Homo sapiens: one gene and its partner. The protein of the gene in region 1 interacts with the protein of each later gene in a pairwise test. Each region holds a gene or a part of one and is shown on either strand. Other genes may lie near its edges. The genes, in order: PMM2 and SGK2.

Evidence for each region.
Region 2: the proteins of PMM2 (region 1) and SGK2 interact in binary tests that used the Homo sapiens proteins (3 or more experiments, as listed by UniProt).

The regions. Positions count from the first base shown.
Region 1 is NC_000016.10:8,838,947-8,850,525, forward strand, and holds the end of PMM2 (phosphomannomutase 2), read left to right. Parts: intron 1-8,777; coding exon 8,778-8,879; 3' UTR 8,880-10,379; downstream 10,380-11,579. UniProt on the Homo sapiens protein: Involved in the synthesis of the GDP-mannose and dolichol-phosphate-mannose required for a number of critical mannosyl transfer reactions.
Region 2 is NC_000020.11:43,558,873-43,570,464, forward strand, and holds the start of SGK2 (serine/threonine-protein kinase Sgk2), read left to right. Parts: upstream 1-154; 5' UTR 155-287; intron 288-6,351; exon of another isoform or gene 6,352-6,414; intron 6,415-6,925; exon of another isoform or gene 6,926-7,600; 5' UTR 7,601-7,623; coding exon 7,624-7,659; intron 7,660-8,195; coding exon 8,196-8,245; intron 8,246-8,792; coding exon 8,793-8,850; intron 8,851-9,043; coding exon 9,044-9,127; intron 9,128-10,512; coding exon 10,513-10,644; intron 10,645-11,592. UniProt on the Homo sapiens protein: Serine/threonine-protein kinase which is involved in the regulation of a wide variety of ion channels, membrane transporters, cell growth, survival and proliferation.

The DNA of each region.
Region 1 (11,579 bases):
TTGGAGGACAACTGCAGCTAAAGAGTCAACTTGGGCCTGGAGGACTGATAAAGTTTGTGACATGTCTGTGATGCTAGCAGAGAAGTCATTAGACAGGCTACGGAAGGTCATGACAGAGGTTGAAATGCCTGCTATTCCAGTACCGAGAGCAATAGTGGAGGCAGAAAGTCCTAAACCGACCATCAAGGGAATTAGTGGAATGACTCTTCTTTGTTGTGTCGGTGTCATGAGGGGAACAGGGAGCTCTTCGTTCCTATTTGCAAATTGAATTTTGGGAGTAAGGAAGACTAGTGTGCATGTGCCTGTCCAATTAGCAGGTAGACACATGTTAGGTAAAGGATCCACAGAGGAAGAAGAGACCTTGTGCGAGGCAAAACTGGAGATGTAAAGTAAAAAGATGAGGAGTGCTGCAAGGGGTGTCTTGTACCTAGAGTCCTAGGGATCCAGCTAGGGCGGCAGCTGTCAGAGGTTGTAATGGGGACTGATGGGGTAACTGCATAGAGGGGGAGGTTCGATTTTCATGGTGTATGAGAAAACGTTGAGTATCTACAAGCAACCTTTCACTATTATTTTCGGGGCTGGGTAAAAGTAAACAAGAGGAGGGCCTGGGAGGAAGAGTCTGATGAGCAAGGGGAAAGTAGCCAAGGATGGAGTGAAATACAGGGCAAGTGTCTTCCTAAGCAATAATTACTGCTAATGTTTTTAAGTTTGTCAGTATTGATAGCGGGCTTGTCTGTAATATGGAGCTGGAAGGCTCCCATTGTTTGAGTGATGTGTGTAGTTGGACTTTGGAGATGAAGAGTAAAGGAACATCGAGAAGGTGAAAGATTACCTAGGGGAATTCCAGTGGGTCTTTGCCGAGAGATACATATAGGAGCGGCCACAGGCATAGTAGTTTGTGTTGTGAGAGGTCCGAATATGGGGGGAGAAAGGAGAAAGGAGAAAGGTTTTTTAAATAAGTGTGAAGGAGGGCGGCAGCTTGCTGATGTGAAATGTCTGGGGAAGTCTTGCTGGACCTGTCTAGAAAGTAAATGAGTTCTTCAGGAGGGTAAAGGTGAGGGCTGTTACAGGAAGTTCGGAGGTGTAGGGAGATGGGAGATGTTGCCCAGTCTGTCTGTAAGGTGGGGACAGCTGTGTAGGCACTGGAAGAAAGGGAAATGCAAAGCCAGCAGTTGTTCACTAAGGAGGGATTAGAAGCGGCTAGGAGAGAATGGGTAAGGTTGATAGTGTGGTGGAGATAGCTGGGGAGAGGTAGAGGGTGGCATAAGAATGGGAATGAGAATAAGAGTGAGTATAAAAGTAAAGAATAGAACTTCATCAGGGTGGAAATATTGGAGGGTGCCTTGCCAGCAAAGATCATCTATCCACTCTAAGAGGGAGTTAAGAGTGGCAGTTTGGGGATAGCACCAAGAGATATCAGCTGTGATGGCTTGAAGAAACAGTGTAAACCGGCCGTGTAAACAAGAGTAGGGCATTTATAAGTAGTTGAGAATGGAGAATAGGAGTATGACCAGACAGAAGATAGTAGGGATGACTAGTTTTTTGGGGCTCGGCCTAAGTGGTGGGGGTGACTTCGTAAAGCCCTGTTGCAAAAAGTAGGGTAAGGACGAAAAACCTAATAGAATGAAGGGATGTATTAGGCTCATAAGGGTTATGACTGTTCTTCGAAATACGACTGAGTTTAAGGGAAGTAGGGGAGAGTACTTGCAACTTCCAGGAGGAAGAGGAGGGATTAGGCTGGCTGTCCGATGGACACAGCTTTATTCTGGAACGGTGAGCCTAGTGGGGAGGATCCTGCAGGCGGACAGCAGTCGGGGTACTATAGATGACTAAGTAGGGTCCGGTCCATCGAGGTTGTAGAGTTTGAGGAGTCAGATTAACAAGAACTGATCGTCCAGCTAGGGTGTCTTCATATGGCTGGGGATCTGGAGTAGGCAAGAGAAGCTTAGCAGCCTGGCGAATTTCCTGTCTAGCCTGCTGGAGGACTGGAAGACAGTCGCCTAGAGGGCTGGTGTCTGGGATGAGGTTGGGGCCAAGCAAGAAAGTGCGTCCATATAAAAGTTCAAATGGACTGTACCTACCCTGTAGCATCTCGAGAACAGGCTCTAATTCTGAGAAGAGCAAGAAGTAAAAGTACTGTCCAATCCTTTTTAAGTTGGAGGCTGAGCTTGGTGATGTGTACCTTTAAAAGACCATTAGTCCGTTCTACCTTTCCTGAAGATTGAGGACTGTAAGGGATATGAAGGTTCCACTGAATACTAAGAGCCTGAGAAACTGCTTGGGTGATTTGACTAGTAAAGGCTGGTCCGTTATCAGACTGTATAGAGGTGGGAAGGCTAAACTGAGGAATTATGTCTGACAGAAGGGAAGAAATGACTGCGGTGGCCTTCTCAGACCCTGTAGGAAAGGCCTCTACTTATCTAGTGAAAGTGTCTACTTAGACTAAGAGGTATTTTAGTTATCTGACTCGGGGCATGTTGAGTGAAGCTAATTTGCCAGTCCTGGGTGGGGGCAAATCTTCAAGCTTGATGTGTAGGGAAGGGAAGGGGCCTGAATAATCCCTGAGGAGTAGTAGAATAGCAGATGGAACACTGAGAAGTTATTTCCTTGAGGATAGATTTCCACGATGGAAAGGAAATGAGAGGTTCTAAGAGGCGGGCTAGTGGCTTGTACTATAGCATAGCCTGCCTTTGCTGCTATGTGGCGATTAGGCCTGGTGGAACCGCCATCAATAAATCAAGCGTGATCAGGGTGAGGAACAGGAAAGAAGGAAATATGGGGAAATGGGGTGAATGTCAGGTGGATCAGAGAAACACAGTCATGGGGGTCAGGTGTGGTATCAGGAATAATGTGGGAGGCCAGATTGAGGTCCGGGCCAGGAACAATGGTAATTGTGGGACTTAACAAAGAGTGAGTACAGCTGAAGGAGCCGGGGAGCAGAAAGTATATGCATCAGGTATGAGGAAGAAAATGGATTTTGGAAGTTATGAGAAATGTAGAGAGTGAGTTGAGCATAGTTTGTGATTTTTACGGCCTCTAAAAGTATTAAAGCAGCGGCAGCCGCTGCACGCAGACATGAGGGCTAGGCTAAAACAGTAAGGTCAAGTTGTTTGGACAGAAAGGCTACAGGGTGTGGTCCTGGCTGTTGTGTAAGAATTCTGACCGCACTAACCATGCCTAGGAAGGAAGGGAGTTGTTGTTTTGGAAGGGATTGAGGTTTGGGAGATTAATCAGACAAGATCAACAGGCAGAGCACGTGTGTTTTTATGAGAATTATGCCGAGATAGGTAACAGATGAGGATGAAATTTGAGCTTTGGAGGGGGATACCTGATATCCTTTGGAGAGTAAATGCTGAAGGAGCAGAAGTGTGTCTTGTTGAGAAGATTCAAAGGAGGGGCTACAAAGAAGAAGGTCATCAATATATTAAATAAGGTGAGAAGCGGAGGGGTGGAAAGAAAGTAGATCATGAGAAAGAGCTTGGCTGAAGTAATGAGGGCTGTCCCTGAAACCTTGTGGCAGCACAGCCCAGGTAAGCTGCTGGGACTGATGGGTGTCAGGGTCAGTCCAGGTGAAAGCAAAGAGAGGCTGGGACAAGGGGTGCAGGGGAACGCTGAAAGAAGCATCTTTAAGATCAAGTGTGGAATAGTGAGTTGTGGAGGAAGGTATTGAGGATGAAAGAGTGTATGGGTTGGGCACCACAGGGTGGATAGGCAAAACAATTTGGTTGATAAGGCGCAGATCCTGAACTAATCTGTAAGACTTGTCCGGTTTCTGGACAGGTAAAATGGGGGGATTATAAGAAGAGTTTATAGGTTTTAGAAGCCTATGCTGTAGCAGGCCAGTGATAACAGGCTTTAATCCTTTTAAAGCGTGCTGTGGGATGGGATATTGGCGTTGAGCGGGGTAAGGGTGATTAGGTTTTAATGGGATGGTAATGGGCATGTGATCAGTTGTCAGGGAAGGAGTAGAAATGTCCCATATTTGTGGGTTAAGGTGGGGGGATATGAGAGGAAGACGCAAAGGAGGCTTTGGGTTGGGGAGAAGGGCGGCAATGAGATGCGGCTGTAGTCCAGGAATAGTCAGGGAAGCAGATAATTTGCTTAAAATATCTCGGCCTAATAAGGGAACTGGGCAGGTGGGGATAACTAAAAATGAGTGCTTCAAAGAGTAATGTCTAAGTTGGCACCAGAGTTGGGGAGTTTTAAGAGGTTTAGAAGCCTGGCCGTCCATACCCACAACAGTTATGGAGGCAAGGGAAACAGGCCCTTGAAAAGAAGGCAACATGGAGTGGGTAGTCCCCGTTTCGATTAAACAGTGGGTGGACTTACCCTCCACTGTGAGAGTTACCCAAAGCTTGGCGTCCGTGATGGTCTGGGGGCTTCCAAGGCGATTGGGCAGCGTCAATCTTCAGCCGCTAAGCCAAGGAGTCAGTCAGAGAGCCTTGGGCCAGAGTTCTAGGGGCTCTGGGAGTGGCTGCCAGGTGAGTTGAACAGTCCGATTTCCAGTGGGGTCCCGCACAGATGGGACACGGCTTAGGAGGAATCCTGGGCTGCAGGCATTCCTTGGCCCTGGTAGTCAGATTTCTGGCACGTGTAGCAAGCTCCTGGGGGAGGAGGTTCTGGAGGAACGCCTGGCCGCTGCGGTTCAGGCATTTGGAAGTTCTTGTGTGCTGGAGATGTGGCTGGGGTTTGTCTCACAGTGGAGGCAAGGAATTGCAACTTTTTTCTATTATTGTACACCTTGAAGGTGAGGTTAATTAAGTCCTGTTGTGGAGTTTGAGGGCCAGATTCTAATTTTTGGAGTTTTATTTAATGTCGGGAGCAGATTGGGTAATAAAATGTATATTGAGAATAAGACGGCCTTTTGACCTTTTAGGGTCTAGGGGCTGAGGAAGAATTGGAACCTAGCTCGGCCTGGCGAGGAGGGGAGAGGTCAGATGGGTCTGTAGAAAAGGAAGATTAGAAAGACTCAGCAACGCTTGGGGTTGGGACTGAGGGGACAGGCGGGAGGGAAAGAAGGAAGATTTGGGACGAGTTGCACTGGGCACAGAGACTAGGAAGGGACTGATGTGTAAAAGAATGCCTGGACATCAGGCACCTCAGACTGTTTGCCCATTTTACGACAAGAATTATTTAGATCTTGCAGGATGGAAAAATTGAAAGTGCCGTTTTCTGGCTATTTGGAACTACTGTCGAGTTTGTATTGGGGTCAAGCGGCATTGCAGAAGAAAATAAGGCATTTATTTAGGTTTTAGGTCAGGTATGAGTTGAAGAGGTTTTAAGTTCTTGAGAACACAGGCTAAGGGAGAAGAAGGAGGAATGTAGGAAGGTTGCCCATAGTGAAGGAGGCAAGCCCAGAGAAAAGAGAGCGTAGAGACATGGAGGGAAGGGGTTTGGGGGTTCTTACCCTCCAGAAAAGCGGGAAAGGGGTTGGGGCATGGAAATAAGGGATTGGGGCACAGAGATACGAGTTTGGGGTACTTGCCTCTCCCCCAGAAAAGCGGGACTTGCCGCTAAGGGTGAAGGAGAAGGGGTTGGGGGGTTCTTGCCCCTGCCCCAGAAAATCAGAGAAGGGGTAGAGACACGGAAAGAAGGGGTTGGGGTCCTTGCCCCTTCCTCAGAAAAGCGGGACTTGCCGCTAAGGGTTATGGACCAAGGCAGGTGTCCCTGCGTGGTCTGACACCTCTGAAACGTGGGTGAATGATCAGAGGCGTCCTTGCAATGATTAAACACCAAGGGAAGGCTGCCTTCCCAGTCCGTGACCGGCGCCGGTTTTTTGGGTCCACAGATAAAACGTCTCCTTTGTCTCTACCAGAAAATGAAAGGAATTGAAATTAAGAGAAGGGAGAGATTGAAGTGTGGCGCCTAGATTGAAAGGAGAAAGACGGTGAGGGATAGGGAGGTTGGAGAAGAGAGTAAAAAGAGGCTGCTTATTGGATTTGAAATTGGTGAGATGTTTCTTGGGCTGGTGGGTCTGAGGACCTGAGGTCGTAGGTGGATCTTTCTCATGGAGCAAAGAGCAGGAGGATAGGGGATTGATCTCCCAAGGGAGGTCTCCCGATCTGAGTCACGGCACCAAATTTCATGCGCGTCCATGTGAAGAGACCACCAAACAGGCTTTGTGTGAGCAACATGGCTGTTTATTTCACCTGGGTGCAGGCGGGCTGAGTCCGAAAAGAGAGTCGGCAAAGGGTGGTGGATTATCATTAGTTCTTATGGGTTTTGGGATAGGCGGTGAAGTTAAGAGCAATGTTTTGCGGGCAGGGGTGGATCTCACAAAGTACATCCTCAAGAGTGGGGAGAATTTCAAAGAACCTTCTTAAGGGTGGGGGAGATTACAAAGTACATTGATCAGTTCGGGTGGGGCAGAAACAAATCACAATGGTGGAATGTCATCAGTTAAGGCTATTTTTACTTCTTTTGTGGATCTTTAGTTACTTCAGGCCATCTGGATGTACACGTGTAAGTCATAGGGGATGCGATGGCTTGGCTTGGGCTCAGAGGCCTGACAGTAGGTGTTCTAGAAAGGTGTGTTGTGTTAATGTGTGAATACTGACTCCCCTCCTCAGTCACTGAGGCGGGGAGGGTGTTTGGCTCTTTTGAGGCATGTGAGAGTTGGTTGTGCCTTTGGTTTTTTGTTTGTTTTTTTTTCTTTTGAGTCTCGCTCTGTTGCCCAGGCTGAAGTACAGTGGTCTGTTCTTGGCTCACTGCAATCTCCGCCTCCCAGGTTCAAGTGATTCTCCTGCCAAGCAGCTGGGATTACAGGTGCGCACCACCACACCCAGCTAGGTTGTGCCTTTGTTAGGTTCTCTGTGACTTTTACCCACTGTGCCATTCCTGAAAGAAATCTTTTTTTTTTTTTTTTTAATTAGAAGAATTACTGGAACTAGCTTGGCACTGTTGGACACAGTCTTTGTCTCAGCTACTCGAGAGGCTGAGGCAGGAGGTTCGCTCGAGCCCAGCCTGGGCAACATAGCAAGACCCTATGTCCGAAGGAAAAAAAAGGCAAAATCAGAATTACCAGAACTGATTTCACATGTGTAGGTAGCAGATGGTGGCCATGCAATTCAGGTCTGTCTGAAGGCCCCCAGGCCTGGTACAAAACTGTGTAAGGCCAGTACAAGGCCCTGACAGGTTCCCAAGTGGCTGGACTGGAAGAGATGCCAAGTTCATGGCCTCCTAACCTGACTCCACCCAGCACTCCCTGGGCCCAGCGACGTTCCCTCCTGAAGCCTGAAATTCACCTCCACCTGAGGAGGCCATCTGCCTGGGGATAGGTTCTTGCAAAAATGAAAACACTCATTTCCAGAGGCAATTAATTCTTTTAAAGGATGTCAGATTTTTGGTACAAAATCATGGTTTCCACGTTGGCTTCATGCTCGGTGCTTTATGAGAAAAATCCCTTTTTTCTACGGTTGTGTTCATTGTATTGTAAAGCAATCGTAGATTATTTTAAGGTTTTGAGTTAGAGTGATTATCCAATTTTATGAGGGAAATAAAGGAATTCCATGAGAAAAACGGGGGCTTTCCTGCAGGGCTCGGGGTTGCGGGAGCGGCAGATAACCTGATTCATTAACGTGAGCCCAGTGGGATTGGTGGGGGTGATGGGGACACAGATGGGAGCACTCAACTCAGGCACAGGACCCCAGCAGAACATGCCCAGGTCCTCCTAGACATGGGCCCTTGCAGACTTTCTGAGGCCTCGGTTTCGTCATCTTACCAAGGTGTGACCCCAACCATCATCTCCTGAACTTCTGGCCACAGAGCTGTGAGCAAGCTTCCATCATGACCCCATTTTGGAGATGGGGAGTTGGCGCAGCCACACTGCTGCTCAGTGGTAGAACCAGCATCTGACCCAGGCCACCTGTTCCAGAGACCCTGCTTTTAGCCAGCAGCTCAGACCCCAGTCATGTGGGGCCATTTATTTATTTATTTAAGATAGAGTCTCCCTTTGTCGCCCAGGCTGGAGTGCAGTGGTGCGATCTCGGCTTACTGCAACTTCCACCTCCCGAGTTCAAGCAATTCTCCTGCCTCAGCCTCCCGAGCAGCTGGGATTTCAGACGTGCGCCACCATGCCCAGCTAATTTTTGTATTTTAAGTAGAAATGGAGTTTTGCTGTGTTAGCCAGGTTGGTCTCAAATTCCTGACCTCAAGTGATCCACCCTTCTCAGCCTCCCAAAGTGCTGGGATTACAGGCATGAGCCACCATGCCCGGCCCACGTGGGGCTGTTTAAATTAAAATCAAATTAACTGAGTTCCTCCATTGCATTGGCCACGTTTCAAGTGTGCAGAGTGACACATGGCCAGTGGCTGCCATCACCGCTGATGTCGCCACGTCCCTCATCACAGGAATATCCCTGGCAGCCCTGCTCCCGGCCCTCTGCCCTCCTGACGCTCCCTTGTGACTTGTTAGAAAAGCGTAGGTACAGCTAAAAAAAAAAAAAAAACTGATGGCTGTGAGAATACTGTCACTCGCTGATGCCTTCTGTGTAGAAAAATAAGCCTTAGACAGATCTTCGCAAGAACATCGTGATGGCTCTCATAGGCATAATTACGTGTTCCAAGCCAAATTGCAGTTCAAGAGAAGGTTATAAATCTCTTCTTAATAACAATTGTACTCACGTTCCTCTCCTGGAAACTAAGAGGAAGGTAGCTGAAGAAACTCTCCCTGCCCAGTTAAATCTTGTTTTTTGGGTACTTTTGGACTCCAGGGTCACATCAGCAATGGCCCGGGACAGACGAGGGGGAGCCTTCATCTGTACTTCGTGTCTTTCCAGGGTGGCAATGACCATGAGATCTTCACAGACCCCAGAACCATGGGCTACTCCGTGACAGCGCCTGAGGACACGCGCAGGATCTGTGAACTGCTGTTCTCCTAACGTGGGAGCGGGAGGGGCGGGGTCCCGGCTGACAAGCCAGCATAGGGCATTCGGTGGCCAGAGCCGAGGGTCCTCCCACACGTGCTCACCCACCCGCAGCCTAGGCAGGCTCTGCATGCTATGCCAGGCATGTGCAGTCTGGACTTCCACCTCCAGTGCCAGAAACTTCCAGAAGGAAGGAGAAAACTCTTGTCAAGAATGGCCCAGAGGAATGCCTCGCACAAAAGGTCTTCCCCACCCACCCCCAGCCCCCTAGTCTAATACCCACCCTGATACGTGCAATCATGTAGTTTTGGCGGAAATTTCCCCATCATTCTAGGATGATACAGAAAGAAAAACTGTGCCTGGACCCTCCCTCTTGGTGGGTCTGTGGAAACATAAGCGGTTTTTTTAATGGGCCCCTGCATCAATACCAAACATGGGGGTTTGGTAATGAGAAACCAGGACAGGCCATCTGCAGTGACCCAGCCCAGGACGAAGTTTACAAACACCTCCTGGAACGAAGCTCCCGCCTGCATGTCACCTTGATGGGGGCTGTGAGTGGGGCAGTGTGATACCCAGTGACTAGACGCACTCTGCGTTTTCCCGTGTTTGGGGCTGAGGCCTGCTGGACAGATGGCTGGCCAAGTGGGAGCAGACCCTAGGGAGTTTGCACCTCGGCTGGGCCGGATTCGGACCGGCTCTGTGTTCACTACACTCAGAATAGCCTGGCTGCTTCTCTGTCTCCGAGACCGGAGGTAGTGGGAACCAACAGCTGGGCTGGAGAGTTGGTGCTGGCAAAACAGTCCTTGCCCTGGGGCCGGTTCTTACCCAGGTCCAGAGAAACCAACGCGGGATGTCAGACTTCACCAAAAGGACTTTCTGGTTGCCCCTGGCTGGCTTCCTGGAGGCGTTCGCCTCTAGTTTCTCAGGGATGGAGCGAGAGCCCAGCCAGAGAACAGTAAGAGGAGCTGCTCTCCTATCTGCACTCACCCAGGCCTTCACCCAGACTTTACCACGGAGGCGGCTGAGTGCAGCTACAGCTAGGTCCGCGTCCCTCACTCTTTTCATCTTCTGCACGTTCTTCGTGAAACTGGAAGGATCCCGGGTCTCAGCTAGAACACGGTGGAAGAGAACTTTCCTAGGAAACGGTTCATGTGTCACTTTTCAGGATGTGGAAACACTGAGCCATACACCCTCCATTGCTTGGTGCTGGGGTTGTGTGGCCTCCACTGGGCACTTGCCGACCTGAGTCTGGGGCCAGGGGAGCCCAGGCTGCCCTGCACTCCTGCCTCCCAGCCCACAGCCAGGTGCTTTCATCACAGCTAAACCTGGTTCCCTCCAAACCTCCCAGCCACTCGGGCTTGTAACTGTCTGAGCCCCGGATCCGGTGGGGTGAAAGCAGCCAGCTCATCCCAGTGACTCACAGGACACAGCCATCCAGCGGCATCTTTCCTTGTCGAATGATACTGTAATGACCTTCCAAAGTGAAGAGTAGCACATTAAAGTGATTTTATTGTTTCCTGTTTCTCATTCCGATTTCTTTTTCCTCCTATGTTCCCAGATTCTGGAATGGAACCCCAGCCCTTCCAGGTCTGAGAGCCACTCTTTCTTTACTCTGGATTTCTGTCACATCGGGGGCCCCTCCCTCTGCGGAGTTGCATGTTGCTGTTCCTGATGCACAGACTCCTCCCCCGCTGCTTTTCTGCCCACTGGGTCAGGATCTGCCATTCTTTACAAGTTTCCTTAACGTATTGCGTCAAAGCGAGACAACCGAGTCTTACTCAAACTTGTTTTAACCGGAGATGGAGGGTTGCTGCTGTGTCACCGCCTGCACAGGGCTGCCCTCAGGTGAGTACCCCGAGTCTGCCAGGCTGGGTGCTGATGCGCGGAGGTTTGGGCCGTCCCTGCCCCAGTTCCCACAGTGGCTGCTTGAGACCCTCCCCAGGCCCCTCGAGCCCCTCCTGCACTGTCTGCTGCCTCCCTTCTGCAGTCAGAATTGACACTCCCCTTCCACCTTCTTTGTCATCACATTGCATCCCAGGCCAGCTTCCTGGGGCTTACTCCAAGGGCATCGGCTTGCCCCGCACTGTGGTGGGATGTAAAGTGATAACAGCTAAACGACGCATGCACAACATGTCCTGGTGCCTTCTGCGTGACCCCAGAGCAGCAGGTTCTGCACATGGCAGGTAAGAGCACAGCTGCCAAGACCCCAAGCCTAGTTCTGCTGCTACAAGCTGCTGCGTGACTTAAGGTGAGTTCATCTTCGCCTCAGTTTCCTCCTCTGTCAAATGGGATAGTCCTTACCGTGTATGGAATTTAAAGCACTTTGAACAGTGAGTGTGAGCCATTACTAACTCAAGTAATACCCCTTCCCAACCCAGAACCCTATAAGGCAGGGACAGTCAGTCCCTCTCTCTGCTTTAGGGGGTTGCAGGATAAAGACACCGTCACAAGAAATTTAAACACAGTAGGTAAATTTTGAGCCACAGCAAAGCACAGAGGTTGCATCCAGGCCAGCTTAGCACTGTTGAAAGTCACCATCCCCAGCACTGCAGAAGCTGACCCTGAACTCAAGGTCACCCAGGGCTTAAGCCTCAGAGAAAAGGCCTGGGTTGAACCTGAGCAGTGGGTGAGTGCAGGGCAGGCCTCTGGCTCCCTGGAGGGAGAGGCTAGCCAGGAAGTTGAGCTTGAACCTGATCCCGAGGGAGAGGTGTGGGG
Region 2 (11,592 bases), on another chromosome or scaffold:
GCCCATCCAGGAGCCAGTGTGTGCAGCCAGCTTGGTAATTCAGGTCCAGTGGTTAATTAGTAACTGGAAGGCCCCGAAGCCAGCTTCCAGCAGGCAGGGCTGGGAGGTTGAACTTGAGCCGGTTTGGGAGCCAGGAGCGAGTGGGTGACAGGTCATTCCTGACTGGGAAGGTTGCTTGACAAGTCAGGATTGTGCCTCCAGTCAGAAGGACCATGAAGAGAGAGAAGAGGGCAGAGCCGTGCATGGGGCTGCTCCCCAGGACCTGAGCAGGAACCTGGAGTTTTCAGGTGAGAGGCTCACCTGTGAGCAGGATACCTGCCTGCTCGCCTATTGGTCTCCAGATTGACTAGTTACCTAGCTAACATCTTTCCTAGTACCTGTTTACTTTCTTTCCTTCCTTTCTTCCTTGGCGACTTCTTTCCCTTCTCCCTCCTTCCTTTCCTTCCTTCCCTCCCAACTATCTGCTTTCTCAGCTGCCTAATTTTCTTCCTCCTTAACTAACCAACTTACATCCTCACTTCCTTCCCACTGACTTCATTTTTTCCTTTTCTAGCTTTCTATTGTCTTCCTGAAATTCCAGGCCGTGGGCTTTGCAGTCAGATGGCCTGGGTTCAAATCCTGGTTATGTCATTTATTAACTGTCTTGATCATGTCACTTCCCTGTCCTTGCCTCAGTTTTCTCCTCCTTGAAACAGGGACGATGATAGTTCCTAACCCGTGGGGTTGTGGGAACAAAATAAGATCAAGTTGGCACTTGAACTGGGCAGGCGTGTAAATGAACAAGTTACAGTGAAGACAGGGACAGCAGCAGGAGAGGGTGCATGGGATCGGAGGGTCATCTGGCTTCCAGGAAAGGCAATGAGAACAGGTGAAAAGGTGAGCTGGAAAGACCAGGTTTGTTGGGGAATGTTCCAAGGAGAGAGAACTGTGTGACACTGTCCCACCCCCACACCCCATTTGGCAGGGCCAGGGAGCTGTAAGCAGGTCCATGTAACAGTGGGACAGAGGGAGGCAAGTCTGGGCTGTGGCAAGTTAGGAAAGGGACAGGCTTGAGGACTCATGGAGGGGCTTGAGTGGGAGTTTGCGGAGTCTGAAGAGTTAGGAGAATATATTGATGTCCAGCTTCTGGCCAGAAAATTAGAACACCGTGGTGCGAGAGAGAAGAAAGCCTTAGGAACTGAGGGCTGCTTAGGCATGGGGGTCACAGTCAAGGTGATGGGGGAGGGTGTGATGGGCCATGGGCATGCCAGGTTCCCACCAGGAACTCAGTACTTGAATATTAACTCAACAGCAATATCTTGAGAAGCTTTACACAATAGTACAAAGATAAAAGTTAAAATAACCGGCCGGGTACAGTGGCTCACACCCGTAATCCTAACACTTTGGGAGGCCGAGGCAGGCGGATCACCTGAGGTCAGGAGTTTGAGACCAGCCTAGCCAACATGGTGGAACCTCGTCTCGACTAAAAATACAAAAATTAGCCGAGCGTCGTGACACATGCCCGTAATCCCAGCTATTTGGGAGGCTGAGACAGGAGAATTGCTTGAACCCAGGAGGCGGAGGTTGCAGTGAGCAGAGATTGCGCCACTGCACTCCAGCCTGGGCGACAGAGCGAGACTCCATCTCAAAAAAAAAAAAAAAAAGTTAAAATAACCTAACCTAAGAACCCGCTGTGACCTTGGGTCATGACCCTGCAGTCTTTTTTTGGCAGCTGTGCTCACAAATGTGTACGTGCAGACATGTCTTTTGTTTTTCTTTTACAAAATTGGTACCCCTACAACACCTACTATTTTGAAACTTGGTTTTTTGCTTGATATTGTATCACATGTATGTTCCTGTTTTGGTTTATATAGGTTTTATATAGTTTTTGGTTGTGTAATTTTCCACTTTATATATGTACCAACATTTATCAATTCATTTATTGATTCATTAGTCAAATTGTACTGGGCATCTACTATATTCCAGGCCCTGTGCTCAGTGCTGAGGATTCAATAGTTGAACAGGAAGTATTTGCCCTCCTGGAGCTGATGTTCTAGTTGGAGATAGAAAATAAAAACTAATAAATACGTGATAAGGCATCAGTGCTACAAAGTAAAATATAAAGTAGACAAAATGTATAGGGAATGAGCAGGACTGGTATCAGAGTGACTAACCATCCTGGTTGGCCCAGGACTATAGCGGTTTTAGCACTGAAACCCATCAGTCCCAGACAAACCAAGATGACTTGTCACCCGTAATCAGTACAAGCCTCTCCAAGAGGTGACTTTAAGCAGAAGCCTCTATGACGTTAGTGGAAAACAGCCATGCAGGTGCCTGGGGGAAGAGTGTTGTAGGCAGAGGGAAAACTAAGTGCAAGGGGCTGGAGGCCAGAGAGCACTTAGTGTGTCTGAGGGACAGCAAGAGAAAGGAGAGAGGCTGAGGGCAGTCAGGAAGGAGGGGAGTGGAAGCCAAGGAGGAGATGGAGACAGCAAGCTAGGTCATATGGATCTCATAAACCATGGTAGAGGCTTTGGATTTTTTTTTTTTTTTTTTTTTTGAGACAGAGTCTTGCTCTGTCACCAGGCTGGAGTGCAGTGGCGTGATCTCAGCTCACTGCAACCTCTGCCTCCTGGGTTCAAGCTATTCTCCTGCCTCAGCCTCCTGAGTAGCTGGGACTACAGGCACATATCACCACGCCCAGCTAATTTTTGTATTTTTAGTAGAGACGGGGTTTCACCATGTTGGCCAGGATGGTTTCGATCTCTGACCTCATGATCCACCCGCCTCGGCCTCCCAAAGCACTGGGATTACAGGTGTGAGCCACCGCGCCCAGCTGAGGCTTTGGATTTTAATTCTAGGTGTGTTGAGAAACCACTGGAGTTTTTGAGCAACTAAGGCACATGATCTGATTTACATTTTAAGACTCACCGTGGCTTTTCATAGAGAAAGATTGTAGTGGGTAAATGGAGAAGCAGGGGTCAGTGGAGAAGCCATTGCAATAATCCATTCAAGTGACAATGGGGGCTCAGGCAGGGCGGTTGCAGCAATGATGGTGAGCAGCAATGGTTTCTGGATATATTTTGAATGGAATTTCATGATGGAGTGGAGGCGGAGTGAGGGTGCAAGCTTTCTAGAATGAACTCAAAGTTGCTGGCTTGAACTTTTGAGTAGGCGGTAGTGCCATTATTGAGGCTGAAGACTGAGGGAGGAGCAGACTGGGGCAGAGTGGAAGGAATATGAGTCAAGACCTTTGTTTTGGACATGTTAACTTCGAGATACCAGCCAGGCGCAGTGGGTCACGCCTGTAATCCCAGCAATTTGGGAGGCCGAGGCAGGAGGATTGCTTAAGCTCATGAGCTCAAGACCAGCCTGGGCAACATAGTGAAACCCTGTCTCTACAAAAAGTACAAAAAAAAATTAGCCAAGCCTGGTGGTGTGTGTCTATAGTCCCAGCTACTCAGGAGGCTGAGGTGGGAGAATAGCTTGAGCCAGGGAGGTAAAGATTGCAGAGAGCCTAGATCACTCCACTACACTCTAACCTGGGCTGCAGAGCTAAACCATGTCTCAAAAAAAAAAAAAAAAAAAAAAAAAAAGATTGAGATGCTTTGGCTGGGCACGGTGGCTCACACCTGTAATCCCAGCACTTTGGGAGGCAGGGGTGGGTGGATCACATGAGGTCAGGAGTTCGAGACCAGCCTGGCCAACATGGTGAAACCCAGTCTCTACTAAAAATACAAAAATTAGCCAGGCGCAGTGGCGGGTGCCTGTAATCCCAGCTACTCGGGAGGCTGAGGCAGGAGAATCGCTTGAACCAGAAAGCGGAGCTTGCAGTTAGCCAAGATTGTGCCATTGCACTCCAGCCTAGGCAACAGAGTGAGACTCTTTCTTAAAAAATAAATAAATAAATAAAGATTGAGATGCCTCTAGACATCTGACTAGTGAATTGTCAAGGAAGCAGTTAAATATTTAAATCCAGAGTTCAGGAGAGAATCAGAACTAGGCTGGGCGCAGTGGCTCACGCCTGTAATCCCAACACTTTGGGAGGCCGAGGCAGGCAGATCACTTGAGGTCAGGAGTTCGAGACCAGCCTGGCCAACATGGCGAAACCCCATCTCTACTTAAAAAAATACAAAAATTAGCCGGGTATGGTGGCGGGCACCTGTAGTCCCGGGTACTCAGGAGGCTGAGGTGGGAGTATCACTTGAACCTGGGAGGCAGAGGTTGCAATGAGTTGAGATAGCACCACTGCACTCCAGCCTGGGTGACAGAGCAAGACTCTGTCTCAAAAAAAAAAAAAAGAAAGAAAGAAAAAAAAAGATTTGGGAACTGACAAGTATAGTTGGTTAAACCACTAAAATGGTAGTGATCAACTAAAGAACAAGTACGTGTAGACAGAAGCCCAAAGACTAAGCCCTGGGATAGGCCTGTGTTTAAGGATAAAAAGAGGAGGAAAATCCAGCACAAGAGATGGAGGAAGAGCAGTCAGTGAGCTAGAAGGAAAACCAAGAGTTCCTAAAGCCAAATGGGGAACATGAGCACACCAAATTCTTCAGAGAAGTTGAATAAGATGAGGATGAGGAACTCATCACTGGCTTTGGCACATAGAGGTCACTGGTCCACGGTTTCATTGAAGTGTTGGGATGAGAGCCCATTTGGAACGGGCTCAAAAGAGAACAGGAAGAGGACTGGAGACAAGGAGTCCAGACAACTCTTTCAAAGAGTTTAGCTGAAAAGGGGTACAAAGAAATGGGACCATATCTGGACACGGTATATGGTCAAGAGAGGGAGCTCTTGCAGCTGGCAAGTGTTCTGAAGTGCTCTGTGGTGGGACACTTAGGTTACTATTAGCACAATTATTTTGCTGTTATAAATAGTGCTGCTGAATGAAGGCCACATCAGGATCTTGTTTTTGAAAATAAATGTCCTTGTTCTGGGTATGTGTTTTGTCAACATGACATCCTGCTGATCATGAATTGGTTCCACATTTCTATTTTGTTCAAGATGGAAGGCTTTGATACTGTGCACTCAGGTTTTCTCTGGTCAACACTTCCAGATCCTCCGCATTTCAGAACCCACAGAGAACCCCTGAGGCCCCTGGGCTCAGTTCCCTCCCTGACCAACTTTCTGGGCCCTAGCCCCATGTGTCCCTCCCCTGTAGTATACTGTAGCCACACAGAAAGTTTGAGAAGGGCAGGGGCTGTGGGCCCATCAACTCCTTTATTCTTGAGAACATCTGCCTACCCCTCGGGATCCTGGGGAGAGGAAGGGACCCTGTGAGAACCTAATGACCGCCCCAGGCAGCAAGGCCTTCATGAGCCAGGGTGCTCTCTGGGACCGTTTCTTACGCAGCAGGAGAGTCGTGGGCCAACCAGGCCTGCCCTGAGGACTGGGCCAGAGCCCTTGAGGGGCCCGCAGGGAAAGGCCAAAAGGACCAAGTGCTCATTAAAGACCAAGGCAGGCTGGACTGAGCTAGACACCCAGGCTCCAGGTTCCTTCCTCTGAAACATCTGCAGGTTTTTGGGAGGCGAAGGGCTCTCAGCTGCCATGGCTGATGTCTGGGGACTTTTTCTTCAGCTCCAGATGGTCTACACAGGGTTCGTATACACAGGCCCCCTAGCCGCACGCATGCGTGCATGCACGCGCGCACACACATACACACACACACCCCAGAGTAAATTCACTGATATACACCACTATGAACACACACAATGACTTACCTATACACACATATTAATAGACACCCATACTGCTCTTAACACACACCTTCAGACATCCACACAGACTCACACTCACCCACATACACACACACTGACACAGCATATTCACATACAAAGATACACACTGATATGTACCACACAGAGACACGCTGAAACACATCCATATGCACACCACACACACTGAGATACAGTGACACACACAGTCACAGATGCACAGACATATGCTGATGTAAATGTACAAATGTGGTCACACTGACACATACATGCAATCATCTACGCAGACTCATAGAAACCGACACAAATACCTGAAATACACAGCCACAGACAGACACACACGGAAGCACTCTATGCACAAAACACTCACACAGTACACACCATGCTGCACATACCCTGACCCAAACAGTCTAACAAGCCCTGAGGGTCTCCAGGGCTGCCCTGGGGCTATTGCCCACCCCTCCCACCGTCCCCGCTAGGGTGAGATGGTGTTCCCCAGGGAACAGAAGTCTCCAGTCCCATCTTAAGCTCTGCCGGATCCCGCGTGACATCAGCTAGCCCCCTCGCGGCTGCCGGGAGCTGTGAGCTCTGTGCTGGGGCCAGGCCGGCACCAGGCACAGACACTTAGGCCCTTGTTGGGAGAACAGAGAGAGGCTCTCTTGTCCACTGCCTGTCTTCGGTTCCAACTGCTGGTTCTCCTAGAGGCCTCTCCTCAGACTCGCAGGTATGTGGGACCAGGGAGGCCGGGTCCTGGCCAAAGGGCCACTGGGGTCAGCCCAGGAGAGGGTGTGGCAGTGTTGTGGGCCGTTTGCAGGAGCACACACGTCTGGCATTGGCTAGGGGCAGGCTGCGCTTCCTTAGCAGTTCTGCAGCTTGCTCTTAAGGCTTGGCAGGGCTGGGCCTCTCAGGGAAGCCTGGGCTGGGGGATCCTCTCAGTTCCCCTTCACTTTCTCTGTTCCCAAGAAGGCCATGAGGTTGGTGCCTCCAGGACCCCCCCTTGTAAAGATAGGAAATCTCTACTCAGAGAGGCTGGGCTGCAGCCCAGGCCCCACAGTGGGCCAAGACTAAGGTCTTGAGATGCGCGGCAACTGGGCTTTCAGGTGAGATCTCTGCTCTCAGCCTTTGCCAAGCAAGGATGAGACTGTGGGGCCCCAAGCAATCTGTGGCAGGGCCTGGGCACCCTGGCCCCGTCTCCCCTGCAGGGTGGAAGCAAGGAAGACACTATTCCTGGCCACATAGATCAGCTGGTCACACCTTCTGTTGTTTGGCCCCGAATAGATATTGGCCAGTCTTGGGTCTCTCTGTGGCCCCAGCCCAAGGCTTCCAGGGCAGCTGCCTTTCCTGAGGCATTGGGCAGAATTCCTTGTGGCAAGGAGATCGTAGCACAGAGCCCAGCTGGGACTGCGCACAGTAATTCAGGGTTGCCATTGTTCCTCTATGGGAGTCCGGAGAGCCCAGCCTGTGCTTCACAAGGCTATGTGGCCCTAGGAAGGTCCTTTTTTAGGCCACAGGCCTTCCATCTGTGAAATGGGGGATGGGTTCAGACTTTATGCCCTGAAAAGATCCTTCCAGCCCTGGCCATCTTGGACTTCTGGAGCTACCCTGGCTCACAGGGGTCTTGTTGCCCTGGGTGTCCCCAGTTCTTGAAAAGAATCAGCCTGGGAGGGGCCACACCCTGACCATCCCCCTTTATCCCTTCTGAGATGTTTGTTAGGAAGTCTGGGTCCAGGGGATATCATTTCTTGTTCCATCCATGCAGGGGTTGCTTACCTCGGGTAGGAAACCCTCAGGCGGTGGCAGGTGCACAGGTAGGGGAGGATGGAGAGGGCAGTGGTGCCTGAAGCCCTGGATGGGCGGAGCTGACCCCCCAACACCAACTCTCTCATGCCTGCTCCTCCCTGTCCCCCCAGAGCTGCCTGATCATTGCTACAGAATGAACTCTAGCCCAGCTGGGACCCCAAGTCCACAGGTGAGTGGTTCTTGGTCCCCCACCCATCATCGGGGGCTCACTTCTTCCCGAGGCTAAGGAAATCTGTGGGTCCCAGACAATGTCAGGGGCTGAGAGGGTTACTGCGAGCACATAGAAATGAGCCACTTGCAGGGTGAATAGAGTAGAGATTTGAAATAGGGCTTCAAGATGAACTGGAAAAATCATGAGATTTGTCATGGAGACACCTGGGTCGTATCCCAACCTGGTTGCCTGTGAGACCCTGGGCAACTCCTCTCTGGGCCTCAGTTTCCTCGCCTATTCAATTAGCACAACAGCCAGCTGCCTCCCAAGGCTGTTTTGAGAAGTGGGTAAGATGGTGGATAAGTGGATTTGTGGGTGGGTAGAAGGAGGGAGGGAGGGAGGGAGGCGGGCAGGCGGGCAGGTGAAAAAAAAAGAAAAGAAAAAGGCAGGCAGGCCTAGTAGAGTTGTTGGAGAAGGGATCAGGGCCTGGGCCAGGAGAAAGGGAGGTAGCCAAGGAGTAGGGATCTGCTGATCATAATCACTTCTTTCTTTAGCCCTCCAGGGCCAATGGGAACATCAACCTGGGGCCTTCAGCCAACCCAAAGTGAGTTCTGGTCCCTCAAGCACCTTTCCTACTTGACTCCCCTCATACCTGGCTCCCCTTGCCTTGGGAATAAAATCCAGATTCTCTGGTCTAGCATTCAAGACTGTCTGCCATCTGGGCCCAGGACCTTTCCCCAGCTCTATCTCCCACAAATTCCCCAGCCTCTGCCCATGCTGAACCCTCTTCCTGCAATGCCACCTAAATGTCTGCATTGTTAGCAACTCCCCACACTTCAGGCCCTTCTGAGGGGCTTTGGGTACCAGAACCCTGCCTTCTATGCAGGCCTTCTGTGCAGTATGTCTGGTTTTATCTCTACCCTCTGCCTGTTGTTTAACTTGAATTTGAGTTCCCCTGGGGCCAGGGTGAATCTTACAAGCCCTCTTTCGGCTGGGAGAACATGGGGTTCTTCGGGGGTGAGGAGGCATGGCTCCTGGAAGGCTCTCTGTATTTCCCCATTCTAAAGTTAAAAAGAAGCCCAGGTTTGTTCTCAGGCACCAGGTTTCCAGACATTGCAAATGCTGATCCGTGTTTTTCCCTCTTCCCCCAGTGCCCAGCCCACGGACTTCGACTTCCTCAAAGTCATCGGCAAAGGGAACTACGGGAAGGTGAGTGACTTGGTGAGGGTGGGAAGCCTGGGTCTTCCCTTCTGCAGCCTCTTCCAGCCCCTGCTGCCACTTGTATGTATGAAGAGAGAGCACTCGCACCTGCAGACAAAAGCAGGGGCAGGCGGGAGGCCTTGTACTGCTGTTGGGAAGTCCAAAGTCACCTACAGGGCCTCAAATTCATGTTTCTTCTCAGGTCCTACTGGCCAAGCGCAAGTCTGATGGGGCGTTCTATGCAGTGAAGGTACTACAGAAAAAGTCCATCTTAAAGAAGAAAGAGGTACCAGAGCTCGGGCACAGGCATTTCTTCTTCTGCTTCTCAAGCCGCAGCCTAGGGTGGCTTTCAAAGATGGGTCCCACCTCTGACAGGTCCATGGGCCTGGGTGCAGAAGTGGTCACAACAAAGGGTAGAGGGGAGGTGGTACGCAGGATGCTGGCCCTTCTCAAAGAAAGCAGGCCAAGCCATCTCACCACAGGGCTTTCAGGAAAACCAGCCTGGCTTTGCCTTCCCCTGGGAAACACAGGCTCCACGATGGACAAGTCTTCTGCCTGCTCCAAGTGCCAGGCTCCCCATCTGTATAATGTGGAGCCCCACTTTATTCTCTCTGAAGACCCTTCATGCCATCAGGCCATATGGCTGGAGTGCAGTAGTGCAATCACAGCTCACTGCAGCCTCAAACTCCTGGGCTTAAGCAATCCTCCCGCCTCAGCCTCCCAAAGTGCTGGGGTTAGAGGCATGAGCTACATGCACAGCACATCATGGACTTCTTTTTTTGTTGTTGAGACAGAGTCTTGCTCTGTCACCCAGGCTGGAGTGCAATGGCACCATCTCAGCTCACTGCAACCTCCGCCTCCTGAGTTCAAGTGATCTCATGCCTCAGCCTCCCCAGTAGCTGAGACTAAAGGCACCCGCCACCACTCCTGGCTAATTTTTGTATTTTTAGTAGAGATGGGGTTTTGCCATGTTGGTCAGGCTCCTGGCCTCAAGAGATCCGCTGGCCTCAGCCTCCCAAAGTGCTGGGATTACAGGCATGAGCTACCACACTCAGCCCCATCATGGATTTCTTGATGCCTCAGCTGACCTGAGTTCCTTTAACACCTGACTCCATTAGTAGGCCAGAGCAGGCCCAGAGAGAGGATTGCATAGGAGGTTGGGGGACTCAGAGAAAAGAGAGATTAATGTTAACAAGGTCTCCGTGGGGGGTGGAATGGGAGGTCTTCCTGAGGGAGGCAGCGGTGCAGCTGGCCTTGATGGTGGGATTCTGATGGTCTGAAAAGAGGGTGCGACATCCAGGAAGAGGAAATAGCATGAGCAAATACATGAATATGGATAGTGTGTGGCTTCTTTCCCTTAGGAACTCAGTTATGTAGGCATCACACATGCTTTGCTTTTCACTCCAAGGGCAAGAAGCTCTGATACAGGGGCTAGAGCTGTGCCCACATGAACTAGCTTAGGATGAGGCTGACCACCCTGAGCCCTGAATACTAAGGAAGGAACTTGGGCCTGGCTCTAAGGGCAATAGGGAGCCATTGTGGGTGTTTGAGCAGGGGCATGAGAAAGTCCTGGGTAGGATGACCCCCACCCACAAGCTTATATGGGCTGAGCCGGGATAAAAGAGGCTGTTGTGGGCTGTGACATGGACCCCTCTCTTTGTGACTCCACAGCAGAGCCACATCATGGCAGAGCGCAGTGTGCTTCTGAAGAACGTGCGGCACCCCTTCCTCGTGGGCCTGCGCTACTCCTTCCAGACACCTGAGAAGCTCTACTTCGTGCTCGACTATGTCAACGGGGGAGAGGTGGGTGGGCCCACAGGGAGGCTTCCCTGGGCTGGCTCTCGGCTGGGAGCTGTCCATCCCACATGCCCACTGCATGCCAAGTTCTGGAATGATCTCACTTCATCTTACAATAGACCCATTTTGTAGCTAAAGAAACTGAGGTTCAGGGAGGTAATCATTTGCTCAAGGCCACCCAGCGCATACCTGGTAGAGTCAGGACTTGAATTCAGGTCTGTTAGACTCCCCACCATAATGCTTTCTTGCCTTCCTCATTCAGAGTTGCCCATAGACGCACTTTGATAGGCCCGGGAAAGGTCAATGCTAAGAGGAGCTCGTGGTCAAGGTTTCTAGTGCTCCCATAGGCCACAGGGTGGGATTGACTGGTCACTGTGGTAAACAGAGACCTCAAGGCCACCTGGTGACCCAGAAGCACAGCTGGGACAAGCAGAGCTCCCTCCTGGGCTTCACTCTGTCTCTCTGGTCAAGATGCAAAATGTAGTGGAGCTCCAGTCAGTGACCCCAGATTTAACCTGCGTGATCTCTTGCCTTTCAGAATGATGCTAAGAGGGGGGTTTTTGTCCTGCATCCCTAAGTGAAGGGCTTTCCATGCCAGCAAAATAGTCCAAAAACATTGGCCCATGGGTGGATCTAACCTGAGCTCAGTCTGACAGCCGTATCATCATATCGCCTGGATTGATGGAAAAGCATAATCTTTGAACCACGCAGGTTCAAATGCCAGCTCTGCCAATTATAAGCTACATGACCTTGGGCAAGTCGCCTAACCATTCTGACCCCTCCTAGCTTCCTCTTACATGAAACTAGCATGACACTTGTACCTTGAAGGTTGTCATGAGGATTAAATAAGAGATGTGGAAGGGCCTGACTTGGAACCTGGAACACAGGAGGTGCTTAAGCAATGCTAACTCATCTCTTCTTCTGCTGACTCTTTGGACACCCGGGACTGCTGTG